Linked DNA regions of Homo sapiens. The protein of the gene in region 3 interacts with the protein of the main gene of each other region in a pairwise test. Each region holds a gene or a part of one and is shown on either strand. Other genes may lie near its edges.

Region 1 (3,519 bases), on a different chromosome or scaffold from region 3:
GAATTAGCTGGGTGGGTAGGGATTATCTAAAATGGAATTTGTCTTTTAGTTTGGGGATTAGCTGGGAGGGTAGGGATTATCTGAGCTGCAGTTGTTCTGTCAGTCAGGCCATTGACTGGATTTGGGGGCCGTGCATGCACTAGCCCCACCAGCCTTATCTCTGCAGACACCAGCTCCTTTCTCTGCTTCCTTCCTTGCAGATGATGGGAAGCTGTCCTTGGAGGAATTCCAGCTCTTCTTTGCAGATGGCGTCCTTAATGAGAAAGAACTGGAGGATCTCTTTCACACGATTGACTCTGACAACACCAAGTGAGCTTCAGTCCTGGCTGGCAGAGTGGGGGTGTGTGTGGGCTGTGGTGGAGGCATCTTTTCATCTAGTGTCCGTTCCTAGTCCCCTGTAAGGGGCAGGAGAACTGAAAATCCCCAAATTTGCTAATCCAGAAGTCAGCTCTTCACTGCCTGGGGTGAATGGGGCGTGTGCAGATTCATATTGCATTGGCTACTATCGCAAGTGTGTCTTCTGAGTGCACATGGCCAACTAAGGAGAGACTCCTGGTTTTGCACAGTGGACATGGGATTATGAAAATGGGAAGGTGGCAATGACTTCATCCTTCTGCCATCTTCAGCCAGCAGCCAGTTCTCACCCCAACCCCAATGCCTGTGTGTCCTCCCAGTCCCAACATTAACTGTGAGGTTGAACGTCATCCTAACACTGACTCCTGTGTTAAACCAAACACGAATCCTAACTCAACACTACGTCTATCATTATAGCTTATTAAACCTTTTCTCCAACCCAGTCATAACCCTGACCTGCATCTCAGAATCAGCCAAAAACTCTGTCTCCACCCATCTCTAAATCAAGTGGAAAATGCAGATTCTACTCAGACTTACCCTTGACCCTTCCCAGCCTCACCTCCAATCTTGCCCTTTTCTTGGGATTCCCCAGACAGGATGAGGTCTGAGCCCTCTCCTCAACCCCACCTTCAGGAGGGATCAGAGCCCCACCTGGTCTCCTTTCTCAGGCCTACTCGCGTGATGAGGACCCAAGCTTCTGGAGGGCTGCTTAGGGCACATTTGGTAAGCGGAGGTTCTCTGAGACTGACTAGAGATGGTCTGGACAAGGAGCTACCACCAAACCAGTGTGCAAGGGGTAGAGTACAGTGGTGGTTTGGACCAGAGGCTGCGGCTGAGAGAGTCCTGGGGGGCACTGGCTGGGGACCGGGATATGGTAAGTGGAGCAGATACCATCCTCTGGGAAAGGCCACTTTAAAGAAATGGCTTCAGGCTCCAGACTGCAGAATGGAGAACTGTCTGGGGCCAGATGGAGATTTCTGAGCTGTTACTGCAGCTTCCTGGGGTGCTTTGAAGGGGCCAGGCAGGTGCCCATTGATTTAGACCTTCTCTTTCAGGGCCTTTTGTGTTAGGACCAGCGGGGTAGAGGAGGGGGTGGAGGCGGAGGGAGGAGGAGGCACTGGTTTGAGAGTCGAACTGTGAGAGTACGTGTGGGTGGGTGGGGGTGCAGGGAGGACTCGCGGTTATGGAAGGTCAAAGCTCTATAAAGACTTTTAGGATTAATCTCCCCAACATTACCTAAGGTGTGAGCCACGAACATTAGCCCCTTGGGATGCTAAATAGACTTTGTGCCCAAAACAGTGTACAAACCATCAAAAAGTTTTGTGAAACATGAATTAAAGCAGAATGACAGGGTCGCTTTCTGCAGGACTTGCCAGAACTCTGAATATGAGATGGAGGTTGGAGGCACCTCCTGACAGAGCATGCAGAGCCCCCGAGTGCAGATTCACTGGGCCACAGAAGCCTTCTGTCCAGATGTGCTTTGCTGAGCCTGGGCTCCACTGAGCACGATGAGGGACCTAGGCCCAGAAAGGGCCACCACCGTATTGGGTCCCTTGCACATTGACTTGGCAGTAGCTCCTTATCCAGACCATCTCTAGCCAGTCCCAGAGGGCCTCAGCTTATCAAATCTGCTCCTAAGCTGCAGAACCACCATAGTTCCCAGCACTGCACCCCTTATCTTGGGGCCGGTCTGTGCTCCTTCACTGCCATGGGGGATAGGCTCATGCTCAGCCTGCTCCCCCAAGAAAGGACAGGACCCTTCTCCAGGCTGTAGGAATGGGGATATGGGACCCAGGGGCTGCGACCAGAACAGGAAGGGCTCTGCCACAACCCCAGGAACTCCAGGACCCAGCAGGCAGGGTCGACTGGGGGTGGGTCAGTGGGTCAGATGAGAGCTTTGCTGACAGCCCGTCACAGTAATGGGTCCCCACTCTCTGTCCCTTTACCCCTTTCCTGGCCCCCAGCTTGGCCCTCCCCTTGGTGTCATTTATTCATGATGGGGTCAGCAGACTCCGAGAAAACAGAACAAGGGTGGGTGGTGTGGGGGATCAGACAGACGTGGGCCTTCAGGGGCGGGGGTGTCACCTACCTGCTGCACCCTCTTCTGTAAGGCGGAGCTTGTGGGGCCAGCACACAGGCTGCAAAGAGCAGGCAGGATGTGTGTTTCGCAGGCTGTGCAGGGTCAGGCCTGCTAACCCCCTCTCTGTCTCTGTCTGTCTCTGCCTCTGTCTGTCTCTGCAGCCATGTGGACACCAAGGAGCTGTGTGGTAGGTGCCTGGCTATGCTGGGACCAAGATGGGGATGCTGGGATGGGGCTGGATGAGAAGGGCCTGAGGCAGGGGAGGCTGGAGGTAGCGCAGGTGGGAGGTGCAGGAGTGCTGAGTGGGAGGGGCAGGACCTGTGACCCCTGACCTTTGCCTTTCCTTCCCCAGATTACTTTGTGGACCACATGGGTGACTATGAGGATGTCCTGGCCTCCCTGGAGACCTTGAATCACTCTGTCCTGAAGGCCATGGGTTATACCAAGAAGGTCAGTGGGTGTAGGTGGCCCCCGGGGTCCAGGGCTCCAGTGCTGCTTCAGTTCCACCCTTGCCTAAGGATGCCTGGATTTTTGAAGACAGGCCGCCAGGGAGGCCTATCTCAGGGGTGGGCTTTGCCTGGGCCTCTTTGAAGCAGCTGAGATGAACTGGGAAGGGAATAGAATGGTTTGGTGAATGGCTCTGGTTGGGAGCAGGAGGCATTTTCCCGGAATCAGGCCTGATCCTGGGCTGGGGCCTTAGAAAGGGTGGCCGCAATCACCCTGTGCCCTTAAGGGGTCCCCAGACAGGTGTCGTACCCTTCAGGGTGGGCTTACAAGACTGGAAGAGGGGGCGGGGTGGGGCGTGGTGGGGGGTGGTGGTTCATGCATCTGAACCCTGTCCCATATCAGGTTCTCGATGCTCAGCACCTGGTTTAATCCTCACAGCAACCCTATGGGTGGTTGCTGTCACCTCCACTATCTCACAGCTATGGAAACAGAGGCTCACAAAGGTGAACTCAACAGAGTCACAGCCAGACAGCCATAGCTGCTGGCTGGGATGAGTGGGGAAACTGAGTCAGGGACCTGGCAATAGGCATGGGAGTGTAGCATGAGACTCCAGGCACACCCAGGAGGCAACTGGAGAG
Region 2 (3,471 bases), on a different chromosome or scaffold from region 3:
TGCTGGCTCATTTCCCTCTGGACTCCATGGTGGGCGGGGTGTATGGGACAGGCAGGTGGCTGCACCAGAGGGGCTCAGGAAAGCTCGACGCGGAAAGTGTTAAGACTTTTGGAAATGTTGAGATGGGGCGAAAATGTATTTTGCACAGGTGAAGGAAATCAACTTTGGGAATCAGAGGGCAGATTGTTTTGTGTTGAACTGTGTCTCCCAAAAGAGATGCTGAAGTCCTAACCTGTACATGTGACCTTATTTGAAAATAAGGAGCTGCAGATATGATTAAGATGGGTCATAGTAGATTAGGGAAGCTGTCCTTGTAAGAAGAGGAAAATTTGGCTGATACAGAAGGAGGACAGCCACCTGAAGATGGAGGCGGGGACTGGAGTGATGCTGCCACCAGCTGCCAGAAGCTGGAAGCAGCAAGGCTGCATCCTCCTGTATCCCCTTTGGAGGGAGAATGGCCCTGCTGCTACGGTGATCTCAAACTTCCAGCCTACAGAACTGTGAGAAAGTCCATTTCTGTTGTTTAAAGACTCCCAGTTTGTGTACTTTATTAGAGCAGTCCTAGAAAACACATAGAGATTCAAGTCTGGCAAATAATGATCGAACAATGATTTGTTGGGTAAAATGGTGATTAAAACCTAGGTTAGAAAATGAGCAAAGTGGGAGGGAGAGCACCAGGACAAATAGCTAATGCATGCAGGGCTTAATACCTAGGTGATGGGTTGATAGATACAGCAAACCACCACAGCACATGTTTACCTATGTAACAAACATGCATGTTTTGCATATGTATCCCAGAACTTAAAATAAAATAAAATTTTTTTAAAAGACAAAATGAGCAGTGTCTACAGCTTTCTGGAGTATGACAGCATCACCAGCTTAAAGCTGTTGCTAGTACTAAATTGAATAAACATTTCCCTCTAATTTCCCCTTAATGTCCTCAGAAACACAGATGAGGGATACATCTTCATATGACTCCTCAGAGCACTAAAATGATATTAAAACACTCTTCCCACAAGAAACGCACAGACGAGGGATTCTTCAGATAATAGGAATAAGAAATGTGAAATAAATTAGAATAAACCATGCAGCTATTTTAAATATTTACTCCTGGAAAAATAGTAAGTTACACAGAATCAGTTTTGGGAATAACTTTTCCATTTTCACCTTTTTATGATTATTGTAATAATTGGAGGAATTAATAAAGTAAAACCATCTGAATAAGTTCATCCCAAGCTGATTCTGATGGATGGTGTGGCGGATTTTTAAACTCTCCTCTGTCACGGGCTGCTGAACAGAAGGAACCCTGTGAAAGTTGTGTCATCGTCCTCATCAGCAAACAAGCCATTGAACCTCTCTCCTCCTGTCACCTGCAGCCACACCTCATCCCCGAGCTTCAGCTGCAGGACAATGCCGCCAGAGGCCTGGTCCTCAGAGCTCATGTAAGCATCTTTGGTGTGCAGTATTTTTACTCCATTTTTGACCAAAGACACCTGAACATTTCTGGAGAAAACAGTGATGTGGTAGGTGAAGTAATAGACCCCAGCAATGTGGCACGTGAATTTCCCCGCTGCTGTATCATAATGGTTGAATTCGTTATACAGGATCTTATCAAATTTAATGGGCATATCTGAAGAAGGAAACTTGCTCAGCACCGTGAGCCCCACAGTGAAAGCACTTTTTGGCAAGACTAGAGTCTCACCGATTTTCCCTTTCTCTCCTCGATCTCCTTTCCAGCCTCTTATTCCCCGGACTCCTGGCTCACCCTGGGGCCCCGTGGGTCCAGCTTCTCCTTTGGGACCAGGCTTTCCAATAGGGCCCATGGGGCCCGGTAAACCAGTTGGGCCCAAAGGCCCAATGTTGCCCCTTGGCCCCTCAGGACCAGTGGGACCCACGTCACCCTTATTCCCCTTCTGCCCCTGAGGCCCAGTCTCTCCTCGGAGGCCCTTCTCTCCCATGGGCCCTGCAAGCCCCTTGGGGCCATGTTTTCCTGGGGATCCTCTTGAGCCTTGATCACCTTTGATGCCTTTTGCTTCAACTTTTCCATCTGCTCCTAAATAGAGAAAGAGCAAATAAAGAGATAGCTTGTGAAAGATTCCCTTGTGAACAACTTTGGTTTTTCTATAATTGAGCTCACAAATGAAACAAAGTAGTGCACAGGTTCAGTATATGCCCAGAGTTTAAAATTCAATTACTCCATCTGGGTGCAGTGGCTCACACCTGTAATCCTAGCACCTTGGGAGACCGCGGCAGGAGGACTGCCTGAGGCCAAGAGTTCAAGACCAACCTGGCCAACATAGCAATACCCTGACTCTAAAAAAAAAAAAGAAAAAGAAAAATAAGAAAATAAAATTCAATTACTCCAGCCCAGCTCAGTGGCTCATGCCTGTAATCCTAGCACTTTGGGAGGCCAAGGTGGGCAGACTACTTGAGTCCAGGAATTCAAGATCAGCCTAGGCAACATGGCCAAACCTTATCTCTGCAAAAAATACAAAAATTAGCCAGGCGCGGTGGTGCACAACTGTAGTTCCAGATACTCAGGAGGCTGAGGTGGGAGGATGGCTTGAGCCCAGGAGGCTGAGGCTGCAGTGATCCGTGATCAAACCACTGCACTGCAGCCTGGGCAACAGAGTGAGATTCTGTCTCAAAAAAAATAAAAATAAATGAAAATCAATTACTCCAATTACACACGTGTGTGCACATGGACACACACACATCCCAACACACCTTTTGACTACCGTCTACTAAATTAGTGTCAGGGCTCACGTTAGAAATTACAACCCTACCATCTAAGTCTACCATGCTGGCCATTAAATAATGTCAATCCATGACAGAAAGCACTCTTCAGAGCAGAGACAGGTAGATTAACTGACACTCAACCCTAGTCGTGACATCCTCTAAAAACCTCCTCCCTGGAGTGAACATAAAATAAAGCCTGCATCGAGGCATTGCCCTCTCCTGCCCAACCCCAGCCCCAACCCACCTATCCCACCGGCAATTCATCATCTACAGAAACCTTGCTGCTTCCTTGCACCCCCACCCATACCAAAGAGCCGTGGTTGCAAGTGTGGACTCTGAGGTTAAATGCCAGGTTTCCATTCTGTCCCCATATGCACACAGGACGTCAGATGAGCTAGTGAGCCTCGTGCCTCTGTTCCCTCACATATGGAACTAGGGTAATAAAACTACCTAGCGTCTGGGGATATTGCATTCAGTGAGTCAGTACATGAAAAGCACAAAGTGAAGATTACACAAGTTTGCCACTACGACTACATCCCGACCCATCAGGGACCAGTTCTAGTTCCACCTCCTCCATGCAGTGCTGCCAGATGCACCAAGTCAAAAACTCAGTCTCACTCCTCAGTGCTCATCCACTGCAAGGTTCAAGGTTCAACAAACTACAGCCACAGGCCAAATTCAGCCTCCCTCCCGCAAGCTAAACAAATATGGTTTACATGTTTTTTTGTTTTT
Region 3 (3,519 bases):
TCCCTCCTCATGGTAGAGTATTGAGAGCTCAGCACGTGAAATGCTAAGAATGCTAAAAGCAGCATGATCTAGTGCAGTGATTGTCAAGTATTTTGTAGACTTTTTTTTTTCCAGATGGAAACACTGTTCAAATTAAATTTCCTGCAGAAACATGGTGTATATAAAAACACAAGCTTCTCTGATTAATGAGAACAGAGCTCTTTGCCCTCAGCACCCCACATCACCATGGCAGCTACTGAGGCACCTCAAAGGAACCTCTACAACCCTGCAAAGTATAGATTGAAAAAGGACACGGATTAGTGGCATGGTCAGTGGGTGAGCCATCAGAACACTGGGCTGGAATCCCAGCCCTGCCCCTCATATAAGAAATATCCTCTCTGGCCGGGCACGGTGGCTCACGCCTGTAATCCCAGCACTTTAGGAGGCCGAAGCAGGCAGATCACAAGGTCAGGAGATCAAGACCATCCTGGCTAACTGGGTGAAACCCCATCTCTACTAAAGATACAAAAAAATTAGCTGGGTGTGGTGGTGGGTGCCTGTAGTCCCAGCTACTTGGGAGGCTGAGGCAGGAAAATGGTGTGAACATGGGAGGTGGAGCTTGCAGTGAGCCAAGATCAAGCCACTGCACTCCAGGCTGGGTGACAGAGTGAGACTGTCTCAAAAAAAACCAAAAATATCCTCTCTGGCCTCAGTTTACTCATCCTTTAATGGTAAAATCTGCTTTCCCTCCTCATAGGGCTCTTGTGGGGATCAAATGAGATACTGAATGCAAAATCATACTGCAAAAACATTTAAGATGCTACACAAACAAGGGATATTTTCAAGACATGCTCGTGCAAGTGACAAGGATATGAAAAGGACGGAGAGCGGCTGCTGCATGGTGCCAACACTGTGGATGCGGTGCACCTGTAGGGAAAGCCGGGGGAAGGCAAGGCTGTGGGGATTGAGGCTGCAATGCAGAGAACAACTGGGCAGGCAGAGCCTCTCGGAGCAGAAAAGCAGCCCGCCTGGACTCATGCACCACTGCCCTTCCATGCTGCTCATCTAGGACAGCTCAAGCAGATAGACCCGTGGAAACGGCTCCCCAGCTTTGGCTCCCAGCAGGCCCCAGAGGCCTTGGCTTGCTCTGCCTTCTAAGCAGTGTCTTGCTCAAGCAGCTGAAGCTTGTGGGGATCCCAGAGCAAATGGAGGTCACAGTCTGAGGGGGGATGTGTAGGATGGATATGGTGTGGCCATGGAGCATCCCTGCCAGGCACACACTGGCAGGCCCGAGTGTGGGTCTGGACAACACAGGCCTTGAAGTGTAGGGGGCTGGCATCAGAGAAAGAGGGCAAGAAACACAGGTTTTGGAGTAAACAGACATGGTTTCCAGTTCCATTTTCCCCACTCATTAGTTCTGTTCCTTGGGCAAGTTCACTTCTTTGAGTCTATCTCACCTGTGAAAGGGGAAAAATAACAGCACCTACTTTGTAGATACTGTTATAATTGGGGGGGAAAAAAAAGAGAGGGACTGACCCCAAGCACAGTGCCTGGAATGTGGTAGTGCCTGAGGAGTGTCAGCTCTGGTCTGGGCCAGCACCAGTACCTGGAGGACCCCTGTGATGGATCCATCACCACCAGGCACCACCAGAAATGCTAGCACCAAATCTGATGGTGTATGATGGCCTCTTGTGGTTCAGGACACGGACTCTGGACCCAGACTGCCTGGCTCTAAGTACTGGCTCTGCCCCTCTCTGGCTGTGTGGCCTTGGGCAAGTTAGTCAAGTCTGTACCTTTTCTCCCTCTGAAAATGGGGATAGTTATAGTACTAATCTCATAGGGCTGTTGTGAGGAAGGAATTAATCATGGAAAGCACCTAAAAGAGTGCTTGGCACGTAGCCTTCCCCCAGCAAATCGTAGTTGTCATTACTGCACGCTCGGCCCCAGCAGAAGCTCAGGAAGGAGGGGGAGGAAGAGGCAAGTCTGGTGCATGGATGCATATGAGCTCACACATGCACACTTCACATGCATGCACATACATATGCATGAGTACACACACTTCATGCTCTCTACCCACACACCTACCTTGGTTTTTTTCTTTTTCTGCATAAGAAAAGGAAACAGTAAATGCAGAATAAGTGAAAAGTAAGTTCTCAGAACCGCCAGTGGCTTTTGGCTTCCCTGTATCCTGGTCTTTAGCTTGGGGTGGGGCTCCAGGGTCCAGAAATCTGAATCACATGGAGCCAAAAAGGGGCATGGAGGGTGAAGGGAGAAGAGAATTCTTCTTTCTCCTCCATGCCCAGACACCAGTGACTGCTCTGACTTTGTTTTTATAATCTACTCTTACTGCATATGGCAAGGAAAAAGATCTTCTGGCTAAGGTTTTCTTTCTTCCTTTTTTAAAAAATGAAATTGGTGGCCGGGCGTGCTGGCTCATGCCTGTAATCCCAGCACTTTGGGAGGCTGAGGTGGGCGGATTATCTGAGGTCAGTAGTTCAGGACTATCCTGGCCAACATGGTGAAACCCCATCTCGACTAAAAAATACAAAAATTATCCAGGCGTGATGGTGGGCACCTGTAATCTCAGCTACTCAGGAGGCTGAGGCAGGAGAATTGCTTGAACCCGGGAGGCGGAGGTTGCAGTGAGCTGAGATCATGCCATTGCACTCCAGCCTGGGTGACAAGAGTGAAACTCCGTCTCAAAAATAAACAAATAAATAAATAATAAAAAAATGAAATTGGTTACTAAAACACCAAAAACATGGCTCTCTCAAACTGACCTAACAATGGATTTTGACTTACAGAATATTTTTTAAAAATTTTTGAGCAAGCATTTAACATAGGGAGATTTTCTTTGGTAAAAGCCCCAGCTGTGGCAGGCTGCCCTGGGCCTGTAATCCCTGCGGCAACTATCAGCTGAGCCAAGGGCCCTGCTCCCTGTGTCTTCCAGATTGCCCCACGCCCCAACATTCCTGTTGACCCTCGACACTGGAGCGAAATGTCAATTGAGAACTGCAGACAACTGTGTCAGTGCAGGGACATCAAAACCCCTGCACCTGCCTGCTCTACTCACGTGACGTGCCAGCTCCCATAAGCTTTTGGGTTTGCAGGTCCTGATCAATACTGCACACCGATGACCAGCATCCAGATGACCAGAACAGATCCCCACACACCTACCACTAAAACCAATCGCCTGTGGTCATTCAGAAGGCACTTGGAGACCTGGCACTGGCTCAGGGTCAGGATTATGACCATGACTGTCACTGCCCAGAAGACAGTTCAGAGGGGCATTTGTCCTCCCATTGGCCTACGTCATCCCCACAGAGCACAAAGGACTGTCAGCTGACTACAGCCCAAAGCCCCAAGGCAGTCACAAGACTCCTCAACACACAGAGCCCAACACACAGCACTCTGTGCTTCGGACTTTGGGCTTCTCACTGCCTGGGGCTGGCCTCAGCGTGGAGGTGCGGAAAAACCTAAGTCTGGAGTCAGAGAGTCTGAATGTGAGTTCCAACCCTGCCACTTACTGAGCTCTGTGAA
Region 4 (3,519 bases), on a different chromosome or scaffold from region 3:
GAGGAAGCCATCGCTGCGGCCGGTATCAGTGCAGCTGTTGTACTCCTTGCCATTGAACAAGAAGGGGAACTTGCAGTACTCCCCATCGGCGTTCCCATACTTCACACGGACCACTAAAGAGTGACATGGAAGGGGGAGGTTGGACTTCTCCAGGCCTTCTTTGGAGACCAAGATTCTGACTCACCCAGATGTGTGACTTTCCTCCCCTCCCACCTCTCTGGTCCAAGCAAATGGAGTGGAGAGAGGACAGGAGAGAAGGTCTGGGGCATGCAGAGGGCCCCTTTCTCACCTTGGCCTTCTCCCAAGGTCCATAGCTCATCGTCATCAAAATGGGAGTCTCCCCCAACACCAGTGCCTGGGGCGAAGGCATGAGCCAGGAGTCCGTCCTTACCGTCAAAGGGGTATCCATCGCCATGCTCTGAAACACACACTGGGTCTTAGCGTCTAGCTGTGCCACCTAGACCCTGAAACCCCTCCACACCCCATCTACATGTGGAGCCTGTCAGCCCACCCAGCATCTGTCCCCTTCCCTTGTCCCAGTGGGGTTATCCAGGACTGTCAACAGGAGCTCAGTAGAGATCTGCTGACCTGGTTGTTACCATCCTATGGTCTACACTGCTCTCCCAGGTTTACATGACTCCCAGTATCCATACCCTCTACCTCCATTGTCTACTCTACCACCATGACACTATATGTACCACATACCCACATTACCACACTAGTGTCCTCACCCCATCTTCATCATCCCCAGTGTCTATGCCATCCTCCATCCTGTCAATACTGCCCTCTTAACCACAATCCTGCCTTCATGTCACACTATCACCAATATCTGCAACATGAATCCTCATGCCCACCTTGTCACCAAGGCCTGTACCACCCACCCACTTGTCTACATTGTTTCCCCTGCTCTTTACCTTCATCACTTACCACTCAGTGTCTATACCACATACCTTTATGTCTGTGCTACTGGCAGTGTTCACACCATAAACTCACATGGCCACCTGGCCCCAGGTTCTACGACCCTTCCTCTAGTGTCTACACTGCTCCACTGTTTCCAAACCACTCTCATATATCTACAGTTCCTCAGTGTCTACCAGCATCATCCAACAGAGCTTTCTGTGATTAAGAGGAATATTCTTTGTCTGTGCTGTCCAAAATCAATAGTCACTAGCCTCCTGTGTCTTTTGAGCACTTAAAATGTGCCCAGTGTGACCAGGAAACTAATTTAAAATTTTTAACTAATTTAAATTTAAACAGCCATGTATATTCTGCCTAATGGCTGCCATATTGGACAGCACAGTAGACCACTTGCTTCGGGTTTAGACGGCCTCCAGGTTATACCACAACACACCATCTGCCCCCATGTCAACGTGGCTCTCCAGTGTCCACTCCGTGTTGTGCTGCCCCCATCTAAACCACCCCCAGGGCCCACACCATCTACTGTCCTATCTAAGCCGCCCTTAGGATCCCCACGCCCCTCTAATGTCCATCTCACCCCCTCGTCTCAACACTGATCCCTGCTGGCCCCTCTTCTGCCCCATCTTCTGCCTACCCCAGCGGCCAAAGTTGATCATGATGTCTGCCTCTCCATCATGGATTCGAGAAAACCGCAGTGGGGTCACATCGCTCCAGACTTGGAAGGCACGAGCAAAGGCATCATCCACTGTCTCTGGGTCCAGATCAGGTGTGTAGCCAATGATCCTGGAGGTGGTAGAACTGCATGTGAGTGTGTATGCATGTGCATAAGTGTATGTATATGCAAGTATGTGTGTGTGCACAGATGTATGAAAAAGTTTGAGTGTGTGTGTGTATGTGAACATACAAGTATATGCACAAGCACGGGAAGGGTGCACAGGTATGTGTATGTATATGTGAGCATGTGCCTGCGTGTATGTGTGTGTAGGCTGGGCAGGGCTCACTGCCAAGGACAACCCTCCCAGAATGCCTTGAAGACCCAGGGAGTCCCAGGCCAGCCAACATTTTTAGGCCCCAGCTCAGGAGTTCCATCTGTCACTTCTGGCTGGTGGGGGAGGGCCATAAGTAGTGCATTATGGGGCACAGGGCAAAGATCCCACCATTGGAACCCAGCACCACCCATACAGAGCACAGCTCTTGGCCCAATTAGCAACCAGTTATAACCCAATTGGGCTGCTAAACCCAATTAGCTACCAATCATCACGTTCCTTCTGCCCATCCCAATGACCTCATCTAAAAACAATAACAATGACTAGCATTACTACACTCTTGCTCTGTGTCAAAAATCATAGAAGCCGTTTGTATTAGTTCAGCCTAGCTTAGTTCCCCAACATACCATATAAGGGCATTTTTTAAGCCCCATTTTGTAGATTGGAAAGCCAACATTCACAGCACTGAAAAGTAACCCAATGTCTCATGGCCAGCAAGTATGAAACTCAAGTCTGTCTGACTTCATTTTCTAAGAACTGTGTATTGAAACTCCCTAAGATGTCAAGCCTTCACAAAAGACACCTCATGGATCCCCTGAGTGGAGAGAATGCATGGGTCAAGGAGACTCGTGTCCCTCAGCCCCATGGCCCTGCCTCCCCAAGCCCTGCCCCGGCACCTGTATGTGATCTGGTTCTTGTCCCACTTGGGCTTGCGAGGGAAGAAGTTGTAGTTGGCCACATCTGGGTTGCCGCAGCGTGGCTTCCGCATGGTCTCGATGGTATTCTGGTCAAGATCACCTGTCTGGGGCAGTCCAAAGAACTTCTGCATCTTCTTTAGTGTGTCCTTCAGCACAAACAGGTTGCAGCTCTCCTTGGGGCAGCCATAGAAGGTGTTCAGGTATTGCTGAAAGAAATGCACACCCCCAAGGCAATTAGCCACATTAGGATGGCACAGTACTGACCAAAGCAGGCTGTAGCAATCAGCCCCCCAACCCAGTGCCATAGTCCAGACAGGAAATAAGCCAGGGGTCCCAGAGCACTGGGTGGAGTACTGGGTTCCCAAACCAGCACGGTCACCCATTAGTTGAGCGACAGGACATACAGCTATAGAGAGCATGGCTACCACTTGTTGGTGCTGGGTGCTGACTATATGTCCAGGCACTAAAGTCAGAATATGTTAACTCATTTAATGCTCAAAACTCTGTAATGTAGATATACTAACCCTATTATACAGAGGAGGAAACTGAAGCACAGAGAGGTTAAGAAACTTGCTTACGATCACACAGTTCACAAATGGTAGATCTGGATTTGGGACAAAGCAATCTGGCTCCAGAGGCTGTGATATGGAATCATTATACTCCAGCATCCTTCCTTTACCTCTATCAACTCATTTATCTACCTTGCGGCTGGTGACTTGGGGACTTTTTTCCTCCTGTTTTCTTCTAAAGAGATTCAAGGACTATGTGCATGGGCTCTGGCAGTAGACAGACCTGGGTTTAAATCCTGAATCAGCCATTTGCAAAAAGAAAGTAGTCCTGTCCTTCATGAGTCATACAACTGGCCCTGCCCAAACTGAGGCCCAAACTGAGCAGGTCCCTGCAGAGGTTCAGGGAGC
Region 5 (3,519 bases), on a different chromosome or scaffold from region 3:
CCCTCTCCTACCTTTTACTTCTTATGTTCCTTAGGTTCCTTAATGATATTTGGGGGTGGTATTCTTGCAATAGTTTCACAAATTTATGATTTTAATATTTTTTTTATTTTAATTTCTGGTTTTGTCGCATACTGATTTTTCTTTTAGTCTGTTTTGGCTTCCTCCTTTCTTCGGGTAAAATATATGTATAACAAAGTTTTCCACTTGATCCATTTTAAAGTATGCAATTCAGTGGCTTTCAAAGTTCATCTGTGTTGTATGCATGTATCATAACTTCATTTCTTTTTATAGTTGAATAATATTCCTTTGTATGTATAAACCACATTTTGTTTATCCATTCCTGTAATTGATGGACACTTGGGCAGATTCTTCTCATTTTAGAAACTATCTTTTCAATCTAATTTTTCTCAGTTTTTCTAGTTTTTGTTCAATTTTTGCCGCTATCTTAGCTGATACCTATTTAGGTGTTGTGTGTGTCTCTTTTGCTTTTAACATTTTATATGTTAGCCCCCTAGTCTTCCTAGACTTTTACTGTTTATGTTTTAGTCTTTGAAATTCTTTTCCTTTTTGTAGTGTCTTGCCTTAGTTTAGTACTTTCTTTACTCATTTAGAAATTCTTTATAACTTCTTTTTATTTCATTTTTGTGTTTTTTGTACATCTTTCCTACTTCAGAAAGATAAAATTTTTAATTTCACCTATTGAACTAAATTTTGGACCTTTAGGTTATTTTATTTTGCATTGTGTTTAGAACATTTTGTCATGTCGTACTTTGTCTTAACACTTAGTTTATAAATAGTAGACAGGAATTACCATCAGAGTAACAGCTGTGATATTAGCTCACATTCTAAACAGAAGGTTGACTATTTCTTCCCTCCATTTGTTCCTGAAGCAACTTTTCCGTTCTCTTTTATAGATTCCCACTACCTGGAAACTTTAACCTGACTCAATAACTCCAAGTATTAATAGTTCATTTAGTAATTCCTTTACCTGATAAAGTAATCCTGCTGTCACATGTCATGTATCAACCATTCCCTCTATGAGAAATGATGTAATGTAAAAGCCATGGTCTTTATCACTGAGACCTGGGGAAGCTTTATAAAGATGCCCCGGCAGCTGTGAAAACACCTGTAGAGAAGAATGCACATTTCCTTCTTTCAGCAAGCATCCACTGATTTCCAACTCTGTCCACTTTTATAGGGTGTAATAAAGTAGAAAAAGTAGTTACTGCTTTTAGGTAAATTAAAATGTCTGCTTAAAGAGCTATTACCTATATAAGTTAACTAAGGAACAGAAAAGTAGCATGTGTAGTGGGAATGTTAGAAGGCAAAAGATCCAGCCACGATTGGTGTGACTGAACTAATCAGGACTCCTAATTTTCCTGACTGAAAAAAATAGGGAGTTCTGATCAGGCATACTGGCTCACGCCAGTAATCCCAGAACATTGGGAGGCCAAGGCGAGCAGATTGTCCGAGCTCAGGAATTCGAGACCAGCCTTGGCAACATGGCAAAACCCCAACTCTACCAAAAAGACTAAAAATTAGCTGGGTATGGTGGCGCACGCCTGTAATCCCAGCTGCTTGGAAGGCTGATGTGGGATGATTGATTCAGCCTGGGAGGTCGAGGCTGCAGTGAGGTTGAGGCACAGTGAGATCTTCAGCCTGGGTGACAGAAGGATACCCTGTCTCAAAAAAAAAAAAATAGGGAGTTTCAACTTGTCATTCTGTAGAAAGTCTTAGAGGTGCTAAAATTTCATGATTCTATACCTCTTGTTACCTTAGCAACAAATTACTGCCTAAAAGTTTGGGGACTCTTCAGTATCAACTTCTGCAGTCTAACTGTATATCAGAAATCCTGGAGAGCTTTTTAGAAATGCGGATTCCTGGATCTCACCCCACATCTGCGTAATGAAAATCTCTATGGTTGAGGCCTACACATCTGTTGTTTGTTTGTTTGTTTGTTTGTTTGAGACGGAGTCTTGCTTTGTTGCCCAGGCCGGAGTGCAATGGCATGATCTTGGCTCACTGCAACCTCCACCTCCCAGATTCAGGCAATTCTCCTGCCTCAGCTGCCAAGTAGCTGGGATTACAGGCGTCCACCACCATGCCCAGCTAAATTTTTTTGTATTTTTTAGTAGAGACAGGGTTTCACCACGTTGGTCAGGCTGGTCTCGAACTCCTGACTTCAGGTGATCCACCTGCCTCGGCCTCCCAAAGTGCTGGGATTACAGGAGTGAGCCACCATGCCCGGCCCCAGATCTGTTTTTTGAAGTTCACATCAGGTAATTCTGGAACTCACAACTTGACTGACACTGGACCTGAATTTAGAAATTGGAAATGTTTGATGATCAAGTGTTGCCGATCTAAACCTTATTGAATTCATTCAGTTCTGCAGTTCTTATTGGCAAGTACCTCTGCTTTCCATTTTACATTAGCCAGATGGCAAGATGAACTTACTCTATTATACTTACAAGCCAGCCAGTGATATTCAAAGACTAGCATCCATCCATCCAGATATCACATTTCTTTATCTTCCACATCATCCTGCTCTGCTCTGCCTAAAAAATAATTCCCAAAATCTTTAATAGTGATAATTTGAACAAGATACAAAATGAAATTGTATAATTAAAGAGAGAAGACTAAATCCTTTGGTTAAACATGTCATTTGCCTATTTCTACAATACAGGTTAGCAGCTCCTGCAATAGTCTCATATTCATATGTGTGTGTGTGTGTATATATATATATATATATATATATATAATATGTAGTTTTGTATATCTTGCAAAAAGTTTGAGCTACATCCTTTTAAGCAATAGAATGTTATTGAAAAATGTAGGCGCAATCAGATTTGCATTTTAGAAGAATCACTCTGACAGAATAGAGAATAAATTGGAAGTAGGAAGCCTTGTCAGTAACTCAGATGAGTGAAGATGAGAGTCTTTACAGGGTGATTGCTTTTTTTTGAGACAGTGTCTCACTCTGTCACCCAGTCTGTAGTGCAGTGGCACAGTCTCTGCTCACTGCAACCTCCACCTCCCAGGCTCAAGTGATTCTCGTGCCTTAGCCTCCTGAGTAACTGGAATTACAGGCATGTGCCACCACACCCAGCTAATTTTTTTATATTTTAAGTAGAGACAGGGTTTCGCCATGTTGGCTAGGCTGGTCTGGAAGCCCAGCCTCAAGCAATCCACCTGCCTTGCCCTCTCAAAGTGCTGGGATTACAGGCATGAGCCACCGCAGCTGGCCCTGATTACATTTTATTTGAGACATCTTAATGGAAGACTAGAGAGCTTGAGTGATAATTCCTCATCTCTTTGGATTCTAAAATCCAAAAGCCTGTTAGAAAACAAATGATTTTTTTTAACTGATTGGAGGCTGTTGAGAATGGGCAAAACCTGACCTAAACTGACACAAAGCTATTATGATCTTTATCCCAATTAGTAGATGTTTAGCTCTAAAATGTTACTGCATTTGATTAGAGTGTTGTTCCCCTGTAAACTGAGATAAGGTACCCAGTTAAC

Evidence for each region.
Region 1: the proteins of CAPN3 (region 3) and NECAB2 interact in a two-hybrid assay, tested with the Homo sapiens proteins (one large-scale study listed by BioGRID).
Region 2: the proteins of CAPN3 (region 3) and C1QTNF9 interact in a two-hybrid assay, tested with the Homo sapiens proteins (one large-scale study listed by BioGRID and IntAct).
Region 4: the proteins of CAPN3 (region 3) and MMP2 interact in a two-hybrid assay, tested with the Homo sapiens proteins (one large-scale study listed by BioGRID and IntAct).
Region 5: the proteins of CAPN3 (region 3) and PREPL interact in a two-hybrid assay, tested with the Homo sapiens proteins (one large-scale study listed by BioGRID and IntAct).

What each region holds. Positions count from the first base shown.
Region 1 is NC_000016.10:83,978,244-83,981,762, forward strand, and holds part of NECAB2 (N-terminal EF-hand calcium-binding protein 2), read left to right. Parts: intron 1-200; coding exon 201-309; intron 310-2,595; coding exon 2,596-2,621; intron 2,622-2,786; coding exon 2,787-2,884; intron 2,885-3,519. UniProt on the Homo sapiens protein: May act as a signaling scaffold protein that senses intracellular calcium.
Region 2 is NC_000013.11:24,319,578-24,323,048, reverse strand, and holds the end of C1QTNF9 (complement C1q and tumor necrosis factor-related protein 9A precursor), read right to left. Parts: intron 2,054-3,471; coding exon 1,281-2,053; 3' UTR 518-1,280; downstream 1-517. UniProt on the Homo sapiens protein: Probable adipokine. Activates AMPK, AKT, and p44/42 MAPK signaling pathways.
Region 3 is NC_000015.10:42,404,489-42,408,007, reverse strand, and holds part of CAPN3 (calpain-3), read right to left. Parts: intron 3,245-3,519; exon of another isoform or gene 3,053-3,244; intron 2,083-3,052; coding exon 2,065-2,082; intron 1-2,064. UniProt on the Homo sapiens protein: Calcium-regulated non-lysosomal thiol-protease. Proteolytically cleaves CTBP1 at 'His-409'. Mediates, with UTP25, the proteasome-independent degradation of p53/TP53.
Region 4 is NC_000016.10:55,482,198-55,485,716, reverse strand, and holds part of MMP2 (72 kDa type IV collagenase isoform 1 preproprotein), read right to left. Parts: intron 2,809-3,519; coding exon 2,582-2,808; intron 1,702-2,581; coding exon 1,553-1,701; intron 419-1,552; coding exon 290-418; intron 114-289; coding exon 1-113.
Region 5 is NC_000002.12:44,354,991-44,358,509, reverse strand, and holds part of PREPL (prolyl endopeptidase-like), read left to right. Parts: intron 1-3,519. UniProt on the Homo sapiens protein: Serine peptidase whose precise substrate specificity remains unclear. Does not cleave peptides after a arginine or lysine residue. Regulates trans-Golgi network morphology and sorting by regulating the membrane binding of the AP-1 complex.